Linked DNA regions of Homo sapiens: regions 2 and 3 are each linked to region 1. The links come from fine-mapping of genetic effects on gene expression. A gene starts in region 1. Each other region holds a variant in brackets. All regions are shown on one strand. Distances are between the middles of the regions.

Region 1 (5,000 bases):
AACCAATGTAGACCTTACATGTATTGATCAATGTATTATGTCTCTCTAAAATGTATAAAAGCCAGCTGTACCCTGACCACCTTGGGCACCTGCCATCAGGACCTCCAGAGGCTGTGTCACCAGTGCATCCTTAACACTGGCAAAAAAAAAAAAATTGATTAAGGTCAGTCTTAAAATACTTTGGGGTTCACACCCTTCAAATGAAAATTGGCGTGGTCCTAGGGATCGTCCTAGGAGATAAAACATCACAATTTCCATGGAGTTCTTCATCATCTTTTATTGCCCTTTGCTTTGGTAATCCACAAAAAAAACTGTCTACTTTTTCTTCACTCTTCTACCTTTCTCGTGAACTCCTAAATCTAAAACTCTTGGAATATGGTATACAAATACCAAGTGCTAAAAAAAATCATTAATTTATATTTGTAAATACAATTTCAGTTTAACAGTGGTTCTCTAAATCCCTTAGCAGAACTTCACCAATAATTTCATATGACCTACTTTCATGTTAAAATTTAAAAGCTGAAGAGAGGTACATTAGTTAAAATTGAACACACAATATTTGTTTCAGACTAAGAATAAAGAGAAAGGGAAACAATCACTCTGCATATGAGGGTATTTTTTCACTGTCTCTACCCAGCTATTAAAATTTTGTTAATATCTTAAACCCAATTCAGATTTTGAGCCCTGTGTAGGTGTACAACTTAACCAGGAAAAACTATCTTCAATTATGTAAGCAGATAACTCTCACCAAAATGGTCCACAATTAGAAACCCTAGTCACATTCCCGAAATAACTATTTTTGCTGAAGCAGCTAGATCAACTATCCATGATGGATAATTAGAACTTACAAACACTCCACCTACTTTAAATACAACCAGTCACTTCAAATCTCAACCTTTTCAAAGTTAATGGTGGATTAAGATTGAAATCAGATTGAATGAACTTCAGAAATAAATCCACATAAAATAAATGGCAGGTTATTTTCACAAGTATACACTGAGTTCAACGTAAAGTAAACATACAGGATAACTTAAAACACACTCTCAATATGTTCTGTTGTACTTGCACAAAATAAAAAATGCAAGCTTATTCTCACAAGTATACACCGAGTTCAACATAAACAAAAATAAACATACAGTGTAACTTAAAACACACTCTGCACAGGTTCTGTTGCTTCTTGAAATGGGTAATGAAGGGAGCAGAGTAAGAAAATAAGGAAAACATATTTCCTGCAGGCTTATAAATACTTCCAAAGGGTATTTTCACATCCAACACACCCCTTTTAGTGGCACCATTGCTCTAAGCTGGGCTTCCAGCTGGGAATAAAGGCGCCCTGGGTCTGAAAGGTGTGAGGTGCTCAGAAGCAGTCAAGAACACGCTTTGCCGTCGTTTTTCAAGTCAGAACCCTGCTAACTCCACGTCCCGGAAACGCCCCAGGGCCTCCCACCCTCGCGGCTCCCGCCCCAGCGCCGGCATCGCCCACGCCGGCGACCAGGCTGCCTAGCAACACGGCAGGGCTGCCTGGCAACGCGGCCCACCCTGGCCCGCCCCCGCCCACAGGGGAAGGCCAAGGGGATCCATTCTACCTCCTTTTTCTTCTGTCCTCCCCCGAGCTGGATGCAGAGCAGCAGCAGCAGGAGAAGGAAGGGAAAGCTCCCGGTGGGCAGGTACCGCAGCCGCCGCCCCGCTTGCCTACGGCGTGAAGGAGCGCCCCGGGCCCCCATCGCGGCAGGGCAGTGTCTCCTCCACGCGCGGTAGCCGTGCGCGCCCAGCTCCTACCGCGCACCACGCCTGCCCGGCCAGCCTCCGGGAGCCCGCTGGCTGGGCCCTCCGGGATGGCAGCGGCTTTGCGAGGGACCCGGGCCGCGGCCGAGGACGCAGAGGAGGAGACTGACAGAGCATCCGGTTCACCGGGAGAAGACCTGGAAAGGCGCGGGATGGGGGCAGGAAGTGGGCGTGGCGAGGGAGCCAGGCTTCGGGGGCGCGGCGTGCGCTCCCGCCCGGAGCTTGCCTTTCCCGGACCAGCGCTGAGGAGAGGAGTGGTCCTTTGGCCCTGGGACCTCAATCTGAGGCCATCCTGCTACTGAACCCAATTACTGGGTAGTCCAGCACTTTACCTGGGGCCTAGCACAGAAAGACCTGAATGCCTTCTTGGATGATGAAGGGGAAGCTTTGGGGAATGACAACCTGGCCCCTGCGGTCCCCAGCAATCTCTATTCCCATTGAGATCATTATTAGGAACACAGCTCTTCTCCTTCAGAGCCCTGGGAAACCATCTAACTCCAGAGTCCCCCGATGCACAGAAGCCGCCCCACAACTTCACAACTGTTCCTTCCAGCCCCACTGGAAGGCCTGAGGCACAACCTAGACTCCACTTCATTCAATGACTCATTCAGCATCCATGGAGTGCATAAGTACAGAGCACCGTACTAGCTACTTTTAATATAAAAACGAATAGACTTACTTCAATTTCTATTCTATGAATATTTTAAGAACCATAGCAGACTGGACATGGTGGCTCATGCCTGTAATCCCAGCACTTTGGGAGGCTGAGGCAGGTGGCTCACCTGAGGTCAGGAGTTCAAGACCAGCCTGCCGTAACATGGGGAAACCCCATTTCTACTAAAAATACAAAAAGTAGCCGGGCATGGTGGAGCGCCTTGCAGTTCCTCTACTTGGGAGGCTGAGGCAGGAGAATGGCATAAACCCGGGAGGCAGAGGTTGCAGTGAGCCGAGATCACTCCACTGCACTCCAGCCTGGGAGACAGAATGAGACTCTGTCTCAAAAAAAAAAAAAAAAAAAAAAAAAGAACCATAGCAGCAGACTGTATGTTGAACGTTTGATATGGGCCTGATCCGTTCTAATGCATCATGGTTTTTATTACTCTAGTATCTAGAGATTTCTTCACTTGTGCCATGAACACCTTTGGTAATGTGATAAAACCTGTAGACGCCTTCTTAAAATAGCACATATTTCTAAACGCATGAAATTAAATACATAGTATTAGCCAGGCACGGTGGCTCACACCTGTAAACCCAATGCTTTGGGAGACCTATGCAGGAGGCTTGTGTCCAAGAGTTGGAGAGCAGCCTGGGCAAGATAGTGAGACCTTGTCTTTACGAAAAAAAAAAAAATTAACAGCTGGGTATGGTGGGGAGTACTTGTAGTCCTAGCTATTCCAAGACTGAGGCTGGAAGGATCACTAGAGCCCAGGAGTTTGAGGTTACAGTGAGTTCCGATCATGCTACAGCACTCCAGCCTGGGAGACAGAGCAAAACCCTGTCTCCAAAAATATATACAGAATATAAAAATATTATATATATAATACTTAAGGAATATATACGTATAATTGTTCAAGATATCTGCAACAACTTACTGAGTATGAAAATAATTTCTGTAGGAAACAAAGTTGTAGGTACTGATAATACTACTGTGGTTTGTTGCCTGCCTTTATAATTCAAAGAAACGAAACTGTTGTGAGGTTAATAGACATAAAGTTACGATTTTTTCAATACAAAGTTCACAGATGCTGAAATTTCATGGACTCCAGATTAAGAACGCTTGCTCCACAACAACCCTATCAACTAGGTTCCACTGTTAACGATTTTCAGATAAAGAAATTAAGGCCCAGAAAAAATTTGAACATTGACAGTCTGGCTCTACAGTCATGCTTATGCTACGATGCCTTTGTTAAAGGAGTTTACAAATATATATCACTTTTCTGTATCGCAAGCTTTTGATTTCCCACTATTATGTGAACATTTTGCCTGAATTATCACTCCTGTTAAAAACTTTAGACAAAATAAACTTTACACCTTATTTCAGCAAACAACAATTCATAAATCTGCAGCACTCTGAACCAGAAGTGTTCAGAAAGCTCAGCTCCAGTGGCCTGAGAGCAAGCTTCAATAGACTAAACATAAAAACAAAGTAAGGAAATTACCTAATTGGCTACAGCTACGTTTGCCTTATTTGGTCATGGTGTAATAAGGCATTTACCTATATGGCTGTGGTCTGATGGGAGGTCCCTAGTTGTATAACCAGTCATCCTGTTGGCTGTTTGTGATTGCCTGCGGCTGGTGGGTTTTAATAAGTCAGTTACAAGAACTGTTTCCAAGATAAGCTCCTATGTGCGTACATAAGAGCTCCACTTACACAACCACCCCAGGCTAATTGCCTCTTGCGTATTTTTGCTTTAACACTCCTAAACAATGGCTCCTGGCTGTTTCCTTGAGACATAAAAATAGCCTCAACTTTTGTCTGTTTGGAGACAAGTAAATTTATTATCTTTATCAGTAAAATATTGACATCTAGATATACTCAACATAATCACAACTCATCATCTTTCCCTTTCTCTCCCCAACTTGTGGTAATTTCTTTATTGTAAGCAATGGTACTTCAATCCTTCTAATTACCAATTTTCAGAGCCTCAAAGCTGTCTTCCATTTTCCCATCCTCCCCAAACATGCTGCCTTTATATTCAGTTTCCAAGTTACGCTCCCTCCACAGGGTCCTAGGGATTTGTTTTCTGTCTCCCATTTTGTAACTCTAGCATTCATTAGAAACACATGAGATGTCATTATCAGTTGACCCTCCTTCCCTGACTTAGGTTGATGACAAGAGTCAAACTCTGTAAAATGTTTGAAGAGATTTATTCTGAGCCAAATATGAGTGACCTTGGCCAGTGACACAGCCTCAGGAGGTCCTGAGAACATGTGCCCGAGGTGGTCGGGGTGCAGCTTGGTTTTATATATTTTAGAGAGGCATGAGACATCAATCAAATACATTTAAGAAATGCATTGGTTTCGTTCAGAAAGGCAGGACGACTTAAAGTGGGGTGGAGGGGAGCTTCCAGGCTATGGATAAAATTAAACATTTTCTGACTGACGATTGGTGGAGTTTATCTGAAAACCTGGGATCAGTGGAAAGGAATGTTTAGGTTAAGGTAAAGGATTATGGAGACCAAGTTTTATTGTGCAGAGCAATCTCTCAGACAGAC
Region 2 (5,000 bases), 68 kb before region 1:
AACTTAAGAATTGCTGTTGCCAGATGTTAAATTAATATTCCAAAGATTTAAAATAAATCAAGTTTGCTAGTATTTCCTTATTCATAAAAATTAATAAAGGAAGCAGTGAATTCACAGAAACACATCAACATTAAATTCTACATTGAAAATACCAGAAATGTTTCTCCATGAGAAACTTAACTACTCCCTTGCAGCAATAATTTTAAGAATTCTAATGTTAGATGTTGCTATACCTTAATTTTATCAGCGAAAACATCATGCAGTATACTGAAATATTTTGCATTTGATACTTGTGGTAATAACAAAATCGGATCAATGAATGTATGGAATTTTATGGATTTCAAAGTATGCTATGAAATAAATCCAGTGCCTAAAACGCAAAGCCCCTCATAAAAACAACGATACAAAATACATTAAACTGATTATAATTTATTCATCATACCTTTCTTAATATACCTTAAAAATTTCCAAAAGAAAAATAGTTAAACCATATAAACATAGTTATGTGATCAACAGCAACAAAAATAAAAACAGCTAGGAAATAAAGAGCATAATAATACAATAAAATACCAGAGACTAAAATGAAATGTGGTGACTAGTAAGAAAATTATATCATAACAGTAAGTGGAAAGATAGAAGGTAATATATTCATAGTAATATATTAGTATCACAAAAGTGTATGTTTATTGATAAAGATAGGTCATAAAGTCATGTAAATAGTTGAAAATGGCCTTTTTTTGGTTTTGGGAGTTACTCTGTTTTATTTTTAATGTACAGTGAAAACATGTTTTTTTTTAAATGTTTGTTGTCCTCCTGACAATTTTTCACTAAAAAATTGCTTAAGTACAATACCCTACTATCAAGAGACAGTATCATTATAATGGGAATCATGATACTTTCTCTGAAGACTCAAAATATGAAGTCATTTTAATCAGGGACAGTCATCAAATGGGTCAAATGAGCTTCCCATTTTTTTTTCCACCACTGCATTAGCTTCTGTCACCATTTTTCTTGAACTCTTTCATATCCTTCTGTTGGACATTCATTTATAAATAAATATCTCATTTTAAAACAAGTACCAGATATAAGAAATGAGAGCAGCTGTTAAAAGCTTAGAAGAAAATCTACTTCCAGCTGTACACAGCCATCTGGCCTGCCTCTCTTGGGAATACAGATCCAGACAAGATGACTATTACCAGTGTAAATGAGTATAGCAGGTACTCTATTGTAGTAATACATTATATCATAAAATTATCTTGCACTGCTTTAGAAGTCATTGTGTGTAACTCTTCACTATTAATGGCCACATATTATGTGTCACAGCTGAAAAAAACTTTTACTAACAGAATGTGGCAAAACAAAACCGTAACTATACTCATAAATTGTAAAATTGAGTTAATTTTTTCAGTGACTTTATTCTTGATTCACACAAATCAGTCACTAAAATATGTAACGCTTACATCGTCAAAACAAAGAAAAATTCAATAGAATCCAACAGAAAATCAGCCAAGAGCAAAGTTTTAAATGTACTTTAAAAAATTTCCAACGCTTGTTTTTCATCAACTTAAACAGTGTTTAATTCTACCAAGTTTCTTCCAAATGGCAAGAGCAAGTCAAGTTTTTTGGGAGTAGAATCAAAGATTTCTTTTGGTTATTTTGTACAAAGGTATATGTATTAGTCAGTTTTTGCACTGCTATAAAGAAATATCCAAGACTGGGTAATTTATAAAGGAAAGAGGTTTAATTGACTGACAGTTACGCATGGCTGGAGAGCCTCAGGAAACTTACAATCATGGTGGAAGGGGAAGCTGGCACATCTTACATGGTGGCAGGCAAGAGAAGTGAAGTGAAAGCAAAGGAAAAACTGCCACTTTTAAAACCATCGGATCTCACGAGACTCACGCACTATCACAAGAACAACATGGGGGAAACCACCCCCATAATCCAATCACCTCCCATCAGGTTCCTCCCGTGACACATGGGAATTACAAATGAAGATGAGATTTGGATGGGGACACAGAGCCAAACCATATCAATATACAAAGGTAAAAATCTCCGAAGAAACTTCTTACATCACACTTCATGTGGAAGACTGAGTAATATTAGAGATAAGATTCTAGGCTCACCCCTAGCCCTAGGATGTCCCTACTATTGTTCAATTTATCCCTATAAGACAAACAACTATTTTATA[T/C]TGGAATTTATTGTTTACAAAAAGCACCAATATAAAGTAACAAAGCAAGCAAAAAAAAACTAAGGAATTCAGTACACATTAAACACTCATGGAAAAGAGAGGAACCTCTTGAGGATAAAATATAACCAAGAACTCAATCAAAATAAGGAACTCAGGAAAAGAGAAGCTATGGATAAAATTCAGCCAAGAGGTGAATCAAAATCAAGAACTCAGGAAATAAGCTATGGTAAAAGCCAAATGTGAATATAGTGCTAATTAAATGCAAATACATTTAAATGTAAAACCAAGAATAAACTACTCTGGCATTTATTGTTATAGACATTCTCACCATTCTGGTTTGCTAAGGAAACCCCAAACTGCACTTGCTGTATCACTGCATGCTTATCAAAAATATTCCAGTTCAGGTAAATTATATGGGCATTCAAGATATGACACTTCATTACGTTCCATAACTAGACAAAGTAATTTATCAAATATTTGCTGACAGGGAAGAGAATTAGGGAGGAAATGTAAAAGTACAAAATTTCTACATTTTTAATAGCATATAGTCAATCAATACAGATTTAACTGAAACACAGTGCTGCTTAAAACAATAGTTCATGTTATGCATATTGAAGGAAGGACACTTTTCTCCAGCTTACTCTAAAATGCATTTAAAAAGACAGAATGATTGCTGATACATAAGATGGAGTTGCGATAAAGCAAGCACAGTCAATTGTTAATTGTGGAATCTAGGTAGTCGATATCTGGGTATTCAGTGTAAATTCTCTCAGCTTACCTTTATGTTTTAGAAGTTCATAATGAAATGTTAGAGGAGAAGTAAATTTTACTTAATGACAATTGTTTGTAGGTGGTGACATGTTTCAATAAAATTTTTTCTCATCTTTATTTCTATTTTGCTTTGTTACACTAAATTATTTTACAAATGTATGTAAACTATACACACACTTTACAAATGTATTATAACTGTAGTTTGTAAAGGAGTTGACTGTTTTGAGCCACTTAAAAGTTTCTATCACTAAATTATAAATTCTTGAGAGCCTAGAACTGTCTCTACCATCACTGTATGCCCAGTGACCAGGCCGGTGCCTGCCTCATTAAATAAATATTTGTGTAACTAATTAAGTAATGAAAAAAATGTACTGAAAATACAGAAATAGAATTAACACAGCTCTTTTCTGGTCCACACGTTTCCTTGGTTCAGACGCTCTCCCCCAACCATTTGTGGCAGGAGAAATGCCCTTTTTAAAACATTTGGGATTATGATCAGAGAGAACAGCACAGGGTAAAAGCTTACTACTGAAACTTGCGGGTAGTCTGTACATAAGATACCATCCATGTTGAATGCTAATATTAACTGGATTAAAATATTATAAAACATTGTACTTTGTTTTATAAGTATATATATACACATATACACATACACACACACACACACACAATGTTTTATTAAAAATACCACTGGAAAACGTAAGTTAAAACTGTACCAAGGGATACAATATGGCTATGCATTGGTAACATCTTTCAAGAAGTCACATTTATAATACATACGAAGCTTTAAATGTGTGTTTCCTTTAGTTCATCAATGCCATTTCTAGGAATTTATCCTAAAGAAATAATCAGACAAAGTACACACGTAAATATAAAAGGATATTCACTGAAGCACTGTTCATAATTCCAAGTATTTGGATATAATATTTATGCCTACAGAGAGGAATCTGATTACATCATAACATGGTATGAAACAAGACAGTATTATAGTTATTTAACAAGATGAAACAGACTTACCTACAAGAATATCCACAATTTGTGTGTGCCTATTCACTCATTAACTTTTTTACATACATGCTAAATATTTGAAATAATATAGAACAATGGGAAGGTTAGGGGCACCCACACAGTCAAAAATCACGTGTTAAGTGTTCACTCCCCAAAAATTGACTACTAAAAGCTTACTGCTGACCAGAAGCCTTACCAATAACATAGTCAATTAACACAGATTTTGTACATGTATTATATGCAATATTCTTACAATAAAGTGAGCTAAAGAAAATGTTATTTAGAAATCATAGGACAAAATACATTTATAGTACTGTATTGTATTTACTCATACTATAAGTTTCTGTCACCTGTTTACAAGATGAATCATCTGTTTAAAATGGGAGCAACCACAGGTACAGATCTCAATCTATGGTATCTATCAAGCAACTCAACTTTTTCTTGTAATGTCATGGCTTGTCTGCTTCTTGGGAGCACCTCCAGCATCCCTAGTGGCATTTTGTTTGCGTCCCATGGTGTTATTCAAGGTTTACACTATTACATTAAACAGAATGAAAAATACAGGAGAACCTCGGGTGATCACTGTTTACTGCAATATGCAACTCACTGGAGAGATGAAGGGCTCACATGGAGATGATCAGTGTCATAAGGCATTTTAAGTGGCTACTGCAACACTTAAGCTCACCCTAATAGCAACGGAATGCAGCTACGAAGTTATGACAGTAGCCTATAACGTACTACAGTTAATTTTATGCAGTTGTGATTTAATATGGCAACCTTATGTTTGTTTACATTTCCCTCAACTGCAAGTGGTGTCATGTGTGATTTGTAACTGTGTGTCTAAGTTTTAACAAGTTTTGACCTTTTTATAATAGATTTGTGTATATCTTATGGTACTAAACGATGAAAATAGACTAGTATGTATATACATTTTATGCCCTCTTGACAGACTTTTTTCTCCATTTTTTTTGGTATTTGTAAGGCAATGCAGTCCATCTTAGAATGCTTTCAAATTGTCACATATCTTAAA
Region 3 (5,000 bases), 170 kb before region 1:
AAGCTGCACATTTATGATTTGTGCATTTTTATGCCTATATATGTTTCTGTAGAAATTTCACTCAAATAACCTGGGAATCTTGCTACAAAGGTGCATTTCTAGGTCCCATTTTCTGCAATCTGCATTTTAATAAGTAGCCTGGGGGTTTGCTCAGCCAACCTCTGGAACATAACTGGAAAAATGACAGTGGAGAGGTAAACAAGTGTTTCCTTTTTCATGTCAGCTATGTTTTCCTGCCATAGGAATTTGTGGCCCATTCAATGAATCTGCTTATTTTAAACTGCAGATTGATTACTCACTGTAGAATGAAGGCCCTTGTTCGGTCAGAACTCATTTCCACTCTCACTCTTTATTTCATCTAGGCTTAAATAGCACGAGGCCCTATACTAGAAGACACAAAAATGAGGAAACAATCATTTCTGACTTTAAGAAATTTAAGTTTACATTCCAGTTTAAATAACTATATATTATCTAAACTACAAACCAAGCAAAAAATTAGGTAGCATAAGTGGTAGCAAATAAAGCATTATTAAATTAAGAGGAAGGGTGGAGAAACAGACAAAGTTTCTTGGGAGAGATCATCATAGGATGATTCTAGCCTCCAGACAAAACCTAAAGTAACATTTCAGCAAATAGAAGAAAAAGGAGGTAGGACTCCGAAAAGGGCAGGGAGGGGAGCGCACTAAGGTAAAAAACAGTATAGACTGTAGATAAGTCCACCAGGAGGGAAGAGGCTGTCACTACATTTGGAGGGATCCTGGAATAGGGGAGAAATAATGAATTTTGTTAAGTATAAGGAAGTCACAGAAGACTTTTGAATAGAAAGGAAATGTGACTGTAGGTCAATTTAGGAAGCTGAATTTGAGTGCCATAATGTAATGGACTGCAACAAGGAAAAGATGTAGGTGAGCCAGTATGCTATATTAAAGTGATGAGGAATCTGGACTACGCAGTTAGACAGGTCTAGTTGCAGTGGAACCCTATTTAAATCAAGCTACTTAACCTCTCTAAGCCATACTTTCCTTACCTAATTGGGAGATAATAGTGGCAATTTCATATAAGGATACTATAAGGACTAAAGGAGATAACACATACAGCTCCTAACACATTAAAGGTAATTTATCATCATCATCATCATCCTCCTCCTCATCATCCACATTTTCACATCATTCAAGCTTTCCCCGTGCTCTTAGATATGGAGTATATAAATGGCTCAATGGGAGCTTCATCTGGAGCTAAATTCTGGCTGGGAATAATGAGTAAGTCAGAGGAGCAAAAATGAAGAAGGCATAAAATACATATAAGAATATGGATTAACTAGAGCTAGTTCAATCAGCCAAAGGAGAACGAGGAAATACGTGTAGTCAAAATATACAAAATCTAATTTCTCTAACAGGACTTATCTCATACTTGGATTGGGGTAAAAGCTTTCAGATTGGCATTCCTCCAATCTTTTTTATTTTCTAAAAAATAACAGAACTACATATTACTGTTGAGCTAATATTACTAACATAAAAACTTTTTTCCAACAGTAACTAATTATTTGTGCAGTGAATACAAATTTACCTACCTGATCTTCCAAGACAGATTATGTTGGATGCAGTATACCTTCCCAAACATAATATAATCTAACATTTGGCTATCCTCTCTCTTCTAGTCAGGCTATCTTTCCTGTACAAAAACACCATTTTTATATCTGCCTTCCAAGCTTAATGATCAACTATTAGTTGGAGTTCTATCTTCTTTTGAACCAATTCAAATATAATTTATCAAATCTAAATTAAGTACTACTTTGTCAATTTAGATCAAAAGTTGTTAATTTACTTTACATAAGACTCAGGAAACCCTTTTTATGGCACCTAACTCCACACAGATCTTTTCCTAATCTGAAATTCTGATGTATTTATCAGTCAGAATCATCAAGTTTACACACGGATTTGGACTGTTTTCTGTTTCACTTTTATCAGTATCATGACTCCACGTATCTTGTAAAGATCTTGAAATAGAAGCCATGATTATAATCTCCAAAGTATCTAGACTAATGCTAGACAGAAAGCATTATTAAATAAACGTTGATTGACTGTTTAACCCAATTCTCTGTTTAAAAACTGAATGTTTTATCTTTCTTCTCCACCAAAATTCTTAGTTATGGCATATGTTATCAACTTGCCTCCCAAAGCATTCTCAAAATCATTTCAACCCTCTCTATACACTGCTCACTGAACCACAGATGAAGTTTAATAATCATCACTTTTAAATCACTACCACACTTTCATTTAGGAAGCCATTATATGTTACTTCTGTCTTCAGACTAGTCTTTTAAGTCTTTCAGTTTTGTGTGTCACTTTTCTAAAATACAAATCTGCTCATGCACCTCAAAGGTTTACAGGCTTCTGGTACCCAAATGCCTACAGCAGAGTCTAAACATCTTCCTGTGACACACAAGGTTTTTCCTAATCTATTCCCAATCAACTTTCTCAGTATTCCTCCACACTCCATTTATTCCATTTCCTCTACATTTATTATCCTGAATCTACCAATAACTTTACATACCTCTAGGCCTTTGGGTATTTTCTTTACTTTCTTATGCTACTCTGCCCAGTGTAGTGAGGTTGAATGATGTCCTCCTCCAAAAATTAACTTGGACTGTGACCTTATTTGGAAACAGATTTAATTAGTTCAGGATTTAGGAGGGCCCAAAATCCAATGAGAGTATCTTTATAACTTTATAAGAGACAGAAAAGGATACAAAGAGAAGCACAGAAGAAGGGGATGTGAAGATGGAGGCAAAGACTGGAGTGGGGCATCTATTAAT[A/T]CAAGCCAAGGAACGCTAGCAATTGCCAGCAACTACTAGAACCTAAGAAAGAGGCATGGGATGGTTCTTTCCTTAGAACCTCCAAAAAAACCAACCCCGCTAATCTTTTGATTTTGTACTTCAGCCTCCTGAACTGTGAGAGAACAAATTTGTGTTGTTTTAAAGTTACCCGGTTTGTGGCATTTTGTTGTGACAGCCCTAGAAAATTCACACACCCAGGGATGCACATGTCAAATTCCCACTTCAATGTAAACATCTGAGCTTTTCCATTTCCCATTCCACATCTCCTATAGAGTCATCTAGGCAATAAGCTGCTGTTCCATCTTTGCTCTCGCAGAAATATATTCAACATTATATTTGATTGTTACCAAGCTGCATGGCTGTTGTCTACTTACATATCATTTCCCCTACAGGCCTGGGAAAACATCAAGAGAGAAAAATGACTTGTGCTTTGATTTCTGGTATTTAGTGGTGGTGTTTGCCACAATATATGATCAAAAATGTCTTGCTAAAACATAAAAAATATAGGTTTAAAAAACATAGGGCACAAAACTTAGACATTCTTCTCTTGTATTCAATCACTGAAAAGACAGACTATATGATGTGACTCTTATTACAATGCTTATTGCAGAAGTTCAGGACAGGAAACAAAAGTCCAACATAACCACATTTCAGATTTCTTAAATGTAAATTTTAAAGCTTACTGAGAATAGCTTGGCATAAGCATTTTTAGCTGTATATGCATTTACATTACCAGTTCAATTACTTTATGTAGGCATTATGAAAGTGACTAACTCTCAAATATACCATCTGATATAAAATTAGGTTAGTTTCACAGACTTTTAGTAAACTACTAACCCATGGTGATAAAGCTTTGAGACATAGTAACTCAAAAAAAGCAGTCAGGTAAAAACATGGAGTCCAAAACCCATAAAGTATACTTTTATAGCAACAAATGATGACTTATAATATGATTCAATGATCAAAAGTAGCATTTTCCTAATTATCAGTTTTTTATGTTGCTCTGGGTGGCTGAATGAACTTCTTGCGCCCTACAACTTAACTTCCCAAATTTAAAAGGACAAAATAGTAAAAGAATAAAGTTGATAGCTGAAATACATGCTTCTCTACAAGTACTTTATTAAAGTGTCATTGTACAATGGAAGAGTGCTTAGAAAATGCTCGTGATCATATTTGCACAATCAAGAGTTCAATGCAGTTTGTTTCACCCATACAGAAGGCGTAATTATTTTATTTTCAAGTTATGAAATATTTATTCGTATATTAACATCTTGTATTAAAATCCACATTTCAGTATGAGCTACACGAAATTGATAATACTGTTATCTTTTCTCTACTCCTGCAAATAGAATTTCAGAGTGGAAGCTTCTTCTATTAACACTTCAAACCCTTTTTAAGTATTCATATTATGACTCTGACATCTGTCTGAATGATAATAGCAAAGTCATGTGAAAAGTTTGAAGGGTTCTTTCTTAATTGGCTTACTTAAAACCAATATTTTAACATGGAATTGGATGTTCTTGTTAGATTATGAGAAATCTTTCTTTCATTTCCTGAGGAAAGCACTGCAAAATAGAATGCTGCTCTTGAAAAGATAACACTTTCTTTTCCTTTGCTTCCTTAATTGACTTATTGACAACATAAATACAAAGAATTAACACTATTAGACTCTCAAATGAAAATAAACAGCAAACACATAAATATATACCAAAATATACCATATATATGCAATAATAGTAATTTATTATTTACTGAAAATTTAGGGAAACAGTATGCAATATTATAATACATCAGAAGTACTGAGACAATAGGAGTTAACACCCCTGTCTCTAGATTACAATCTGGTTTAATTAGGTACAAAGGGTAACTGTTTTTGTCAGACTCACAGCTAAAATTTGAGAGATCCAACCATGTATAATATGAGTATCTTTAAAGAGTACTTAACTGGAATCTAAAATCCAAACTTCTAAAATGTAAGAAAACAAGTATGTAAAATGGATGCCTCTGTTACGTCACAGCACAGAGATTCAAGGTACACTAGCAGGAAAGGCGGCACAGTTTTATCTGATAATATGTAAGTTGTAAAGCATGAAGGAGGGGATGAGAACCAAAAGAGAAGCTATTTCTGTAATACCTACAAACTCTGACAGACTGAAGATGACCC

Which allele goes with the higher level. Positions count from the first base shown, and alleles are read on the strand shown. Sizes are in standard deviations (SD) of each study's normalised expression.
For the expression in esophagus muscle of the gene that starts at base 1,892 in region 1, allele T in region 2 goes with a higher level than allele C (small effect, 0.33 SD a copy in GTEx).
For the expression in cerebral cortex of the gene that starts at base 1,892 in region 1, allele T in region 3 goes with a lower level than allele A (small effect, 0.17 SD a copy in GTEx).

The links. PIP is the estimated chance that this variant, and not a neighbour inherited with it, causes the effect.
Region 2: its variant is the best candidate, but not a certain one, in a credible set for the expression of TUSC3 in esophagus muscle (GTEx, PIP 0.59).
Region 3: its variant is the best candidate, but not a certain one, in a credible set for the expression of TUSC3 in cerebral cortex (GTEx, PIP 0.52).

What each region holds. Positions count from the first base shown.
Region 1 is chr8:15,537,155-15,542,154 of GRCh38, reverse strand. It overlaps TUSC3 (tumor suppressor candidate 3), which reads right to left and starts at 1,892. Exons shown (of 11, transcript NM_006765.4): 1 at 1,587-1,892. The coding sequence starts at 1,724.
Region 2 is chr8:15,605,550-15,610,549 of GRCh38, reverse strand. All of the region lies in intron 1 of TUSC3 (tumor suppressor candidate 3), which reads right to left. Among named protein-coding and RNA genes, the nearest start is that of TUSC3, 68 kb to the right of the region's middle. The variant T/C (reference allele first, on the strand shown) is at 2,192.
Region 3 is chr8:15,705,764-15,710,763 of GRCh38, reverse strand. The region is part of intron 6 of TUSC3 (tumor suppressor candidate 3); the gene reads right to left. Among named protein-coding and RNA genes, the nearest start is that of TUSC3, 170 kb to the right of the region's middle. The variant A/T (reference allele first, on the strand shown) is at 2,816.